2 separate regions of the Homo sapiens genome follow, and region 1 is linked to region 2. The links come from fine-mapping of genetic effects on gene expression. A gene starts in region 2. The other region holds a variant in brackets. All regions are shown on one strand. Distances are from middle to middle. Region 1 has its middle 11 kb from the start of FLYWCH1. Region 2 holds the start of PRSS22 (serine protease 22).

Region 1 (2,500 bases), 42 kb before region 2:
GTGATCTCAGCTCACTGCAACCTCCACCTCCCGGGTTGAAGCCATTCTCCTGCCTCAGTCTCCCGAGTAGCTGGGACTAGAGGCACCCACCACCACACCTGGCTAATTTTTGTATTTTTTTTTAGTAAAGACGGGGTTTCGCCATGTTGGCCAGGCTGGTCTTGAAATCCTGACCTCAGCTGGTCCGCCCGCCTCAGCCTCCCGAAGGCAGGGATTACAGGCATGAGCCACTGCACCTGGCCTATTATTTCAATTTTAATATCAAATTGCTAACACTAGGCTGGGCACGGTGGCTTGTACCTGTAATCCCAGCACTTTGGGAGGCCGAGATGGGAAGATCGCTTGAGCCCAAGAGTTTGAGACCAGCCTGGGCAACACAGCGAGACCCCATCTCCTCAAAAACTCAAAAAAGTAGCCTGCCTGTAGTCTCAGCTGCTCAGGAGGCTGAGGTGGGAGGATGATTGCTTGAGCCTGGAAGGTCTGCTGCACTACAGCCTGGGCAACAGAGCAGGACCCTGTCCCTGTCTCGAAAAAAAAATAAAAATAAAAGTAAAAATAAAAAATAAAGAACAGGAGAGGGGCTCCGGGATATGGGTGGCAAAAAAAGGCAACATGGGGTCCTAACCTGGCCATTTTTGTCCTCACTGCTCACTGGGATGTGGTGTGGATGATGCTGGGTGATATCACGGAACCAGCGGCGATCCTCTCAGGCACACTCGCATTAACATGGCTATGACTGGGAAGGGTGTGCTCAGAGGTGCAGGCAGAATGGTTTTGGAGTCTGCTGCCTGCATTTGGATGGTTTGGCAAAAGAGAAGTGTGTGGAGGAGAGACAGAGGGAGGGAGAGAGAAAAAAGAGGAGAGAGAGAGGGAAGGAGAGCCGGGGAACCCAGGCCAGGGCGATACAGTATGCACTGCGTGCTCCTGCAACTTTTATGCTCCAAATGTTTCAAAATAAAACCAGAGGGTGAGGAAAACAGTGATGTGGCCAGGCCCAGTGTGCAGGCTCCAGCTCCCCAGTATGCGTCTCCCTCCCGGCCGACTGCCAGCGCCACTGAAAGACTCAGGCCCAGGG[C/GC]ACCTTTGTCATTCCCCCAACTCCACTAAAAGGTGGCAGCAAAAATGCTCCCCCGCTCCCGGCCCTGCTGCTCCACAGCCACCCCTCACTGCTGGGTAAGGCTTCCCAGGCAACAGCAGGAGGGGCCCGATGGTGCCACACTGAGTACAGGGCAGACGCGCCCCACAGTGACCCTGCCCTCTGACCCACCCCGGCCTCCTCTTCCTCACTCCCACTTCTTGAGGTTGCACCCGAAACGTCCTGCCCTGACATCCTCAGGTGTCCTTAACATCTGACAAGAACAGACAGCCAAGGGTACTTGGGAACAGGCCTGGAGCAGTGGCTCACACCTGTAATCCCAGCACTTTGGGAGGCCGAGGCAGGCAGATCACCTGAGGTCCAGAGTTCCAGACCAACCTGGCCAACATGGTGAAACCCCATCTCTACTAAAAATACAAAAACAGCCAGGCATGGTGGTGCGCACCTGTAATCCCAGCTACTTGGGAGGCTGAAGCAGGAGAATCGCTTGAACCTGGGAGGCGGCAGTTGCAGTGAGCTGAGATCACACCACTGCACTCCAGCCTGGGCTACAGAGTGAGACCCCATCTCAAAAAACAAAACAAAACAAACGAACAAAAAAACACTTGGGAAAGGAGAAAGCATGGTGGAGAACACAGAAACCATCTGAATATAAAATCAGGGCCAGGCATGGTGGCTCATGCCTGTAATCCCAGCACTTTGGGAGGCTGAGGCAGGCAGATTACCTGAGGTCAGGAGTTCAAGACCAGCCTGGCCAACGTGGTGAAACCCCATCTCTACTAAATATATAAAAATTAGCCGGGCGTGGTGGCGGGCGCCTGTAATCCCAGCTACTCAGGAGGCTGAGTCAAGAGAATCGCTTGAACCCGGGAGGTGGTGGTTGCAGTGAGTCCAGATCGTGCCACTGCACTCCAGCCTGTGCGACGAGTGAAACTCCGCCTCAAAACAAACAAACAAAACCCTAACATTGCCTTGAGCCCAGAGGCAGTTGTCAAAGAATGAGGACTCATGGGAAGCCTCCTGGAGGCTCGCTGACTTGGGAGCTCAAGTAGGGTAGCTGTGCTTCCTTCATCTCCCCTCCAGCAGGGATGGCACCCAGGGGGCCAGGGCAGGAACTCAGGTTTCCTCAGCCCACAAATCCCCTGGAAAAAACATGACAGGCAGGCCGCATGTGCTTTTGTCAGGTTCCTCCCTGAACCCACCCATGAGCTGCAGGCCTACCTCTCCCTCAGCAGAATCCTGGAGCTACCATTCTCAGCAAGCCTGAGCTCCCTTAGTGCCTGGGAGCTGTCAGTCTGGGAGGCTTCATGGAGGAAGCGAGACTTGGGTCAGGGAGGGCAGTGACTAAGGGGCACTTTGGAAGGGCCCAGTAAGGGCTGGGGTGCGGAGACCCAGGGGTGGTGGCAT
Region 2 (3,002 bases):
CAAGTTAGGGCTCACCCCAGGCAGGGTGAGGCACCTCCTCCAGGCTCCCGAAGCCTCCATGAGGGCAGTCCCAGCAGCCACCCCCAGTGTTGGGGTGCAGGTCCGGCTCCACCACTCACCCAGCAATCTCGGGCAAGTCACTTAACCGCCCTAAGCTGCCTCAGTTTCCTTATCTGCAGAGTGGGAATAATAAAGACATTTGAGGATTAGGAGGCAATGCATGGCACTCCTAAATGTTTGCTCTATTATATAAATACTATATTTATATTTGTATAAATATATTTATTACATACATATTCACTACTATGGTTTTTTTTTTTTTTTTTTGAAACAGAGTCTCGCTCTGTCGCCCAGGCTGGAGTGCAGTGGCGTGATCTCAGCTCACTGCAACCTCCGCCTCCCAGGTTCAAGCGATTCTCCTGCCTCAGCCTCCCAAGTAGATGGGACTAAGGGCGCCTGCCACCATGCCTGGCTAATTTTTTTTTTTTTGTATTTTTAGTAGAGACGGGGTTTTACTATGTTGGCCAGACTGGTATTGAACTCCTGACCTCATGATCTGTCCGTCTTGGCCTCCCAAAGTGCTGGGATTACAGGAATAAGCCACCCCACCCAGACACTATGGTTGTTTTTAATTCACCCCCGGCGGTAGCAAGGGCCCTGCTGGAGGCTTGTTGATCGAATGAGTGAAGGGGCGCAGGCTCCTGCCTCTTTGTAGAGGAGGAAGCCTGCCCTGCTTGGGTGGGAGTGTCCCAAGTGTGGGGCGCTGCAGGGCACTGAGTCAGGGAAGGTCTCACAGGATTCAGCCCCGGGTTGCCACTGTGGCAGCCGCTGGGGGGAAGCACCGAGAATCCACTCCCAGCCCAGGACCCGGCCCCCCACAGCCCAGCCCAGCAGCTCTTTGAATCCTGGGAGTCCCAGCCCTTCCCGGGGCCCCTCTTCTCTCAACCCCCCTGCTTGGCCGAGCCCTGGTGCCCATGGGCTCCTCCCCTTCCCAGGAGTCCAGGTGAGGTGAGTTGTCAGGTGTCTGAACCGCAGGGCAGAGCCCCGCCTCCAGGAACGACAGGAGGGCGGCCACCAGGAGGCCACCAAGGTCGCCACTCACCTGATTCACAGCTTTCGGGAAGTGGGTTAACGGGATTCCCAAGCCCGGGTTGCGCCAGGTCTCTGGGCTGAGTCACAGGGGCCTGGGGCCCTGCAGGTGGGAGCCGTTACTGAGCTTTGGGCACCCCCTTGATCCCTAAGGCCCTAGGACCACCCCCAACACCCAGTACCCCAGACTTCAGCCTCTCCAAACCCAGGCCCTCCCCAGCCCGGAACCCCTTCCTTTCAGTGCCCTGGCACCTTTCTCTGCCCCTGGACAATTAATGTCAGGGACCTCTGGGCCCAAGCCCCCTCCCCTGCCCTTCCAGAGGCCACATCCTGGGGTCTCAGCTAGAGCCCCCCCAGAGCCCTGTAGCGGCTGGCTTCCTCCCCGCAGCCCCGCCCTCTGCCCAGGACCCACAGCCGGGGTGGCCGCGGGAGCCACCTGGGGACTGGTCTGACGGCATTCCGCCTCCCAGGATAAAACCTGGGGCGACCTGCAGGGAACCTACACACCCTGACCCGCATCGCCCTGGGTCTCTCGAGCCTGCTGCCTGCTCCCCCGCCCCACCAGCCATGGTGGTTTCTGGAGCGCCCCCAGCCCTGGGTGGGGGCTGTCTCGGCACCTTCACCTCCCTGCTGCTGCTGGCGTCGACAGGTACGTCCGGAGGCTGCTCCTCCCTCCTCCCTCTCACCTCCACCCTCCTTCCCTCCTTCCCTCCCTCCCTCTCTCCCTCCTGGCCTTGCCTCTCTCATCTCCTTTCCGCTTCTGCTCTGTTTATCTCTTGCTCCTTAACTGCTCTGTGCCTCGGTTTCTTCTACGGCTGTGAGGATGAAACAGAAAACGCAGCAAGTACGCAGCGCGCCTCGGTCTCCAGTTACCGTCGGCGTCGCCATCGCCTGCTCCCTCTCGCCTCCGTGTTCTCCCATCTCCTCGTCCTCCGCTGCTTGCCTCTGGGGAAGCACCGTTTTGTGTTGTTCCTGCCGCAGGAGGTCAGGGGAGGGCACACCAGCGGCAGCAGCGTCCAGAGCCGAGGGGCTCAGGTCTGTGCCTCCCTCGAGGAGCCGGTCCTGGTCCCCGGAAGGCAGGCTGGACGGGAAGCTGCGGGAGGGCAGGGTCACAGCTGTGCAGCCAGGGCCTGGCCAGGCCCCAGGAAATGCCCCGCCGGTAGGGGCCCTGGGGTTGAGAGACTTGAGAGTCTCCCTGGGCACTGGAGGGCTAGAGGTTCCTCACCACCAGGTACTCAAGGGGACCCCCTCCTCACTGGGCGCTGGGACGCCTGCTCACTGGGCGCTGGGACCCCTCCTCACTGGGCGCTGGGACCCCCTCCTCACTGAGCGCTGGGACCCCCTCGTCACTGGGCGCTGGGGACCCCTCCTCACTGGGCGCTGGGGAGCCCTCCTCACTGGGCGCTGGGGACCCCTCCTCACTGGGCGCTGGGGAACCCTCCTCACTAGGCGCTGGGGAGCCCTCCTCACTGGGCGCTGGGGACCCCTCCTCACTGGGTGCTGGGACCCCTTCCCACTGGGCACTGGACCCCTTCTCACTGGGTGCTGGGGGCTTCTCGCTGGGCGCTGAGGGACCCTCCTCACTGGGTACTGGGACCCCTCCTCACTGGGCGCTGAGGGACCCTCCTCAGGGGGTGCTGGGACCCCTCCTCACTGGGCGCTGAGGGACCCTCCTCACTGGGTGCTGGGACCTCCACCTCACTGGGCACTGGGATCCCTTCTTACTGGGTGTTGGGGGCCTTCCTCACTGGGCGTTGAGGGCCCCTCACCACTGTGTCCTGGGGCCCCTCACCGGCCTAACCGTTTCCTTCTCTTGCCCTCAGCCATCCTCAATGCGGCCAGGATACCTGGTGAGTGGAGCTGGCAGCTCTGACGGGAGGGAGAAGGGAGGAGGCCCACGCGCAGGCAGTGTC

The links. PIP is the estimated chance that this variant, and not a neighbour inherited with it, causes the effect.
Region 1: its variant is the best candidate, but not a certain one, in a credible set for the expression of PRSS22 in whole blood (TOPMed, PIP 0.63).

The regions. Positions count from the first base shown.
Region 1 is chr16:2,899,418-2,901,917 of GRCh38, reverse strand. No RefSeq gene overlaps it. Among named protein-coding and RNA genes, the nearest start is that of FLYWCH1, 11 kb to the left of the region's middle. The variant C/GC (reference allele first, on the strand shown) is at 1,076.
Region 2 is chr16:2,856,759-2,859,760 of GRCh38, reverse strand. PRSS22 (serine protease 22) reads left to right here and starts at 1,591. Exons shown (of 6, transcript NM_022119.4): 1 at 1,591-1,738; 2 at 2,913-2,939. The coding sequence starts at 1,657. RefSeq lists enhancers at 405-1,004, 1,005-1,605, 1,606-2,206.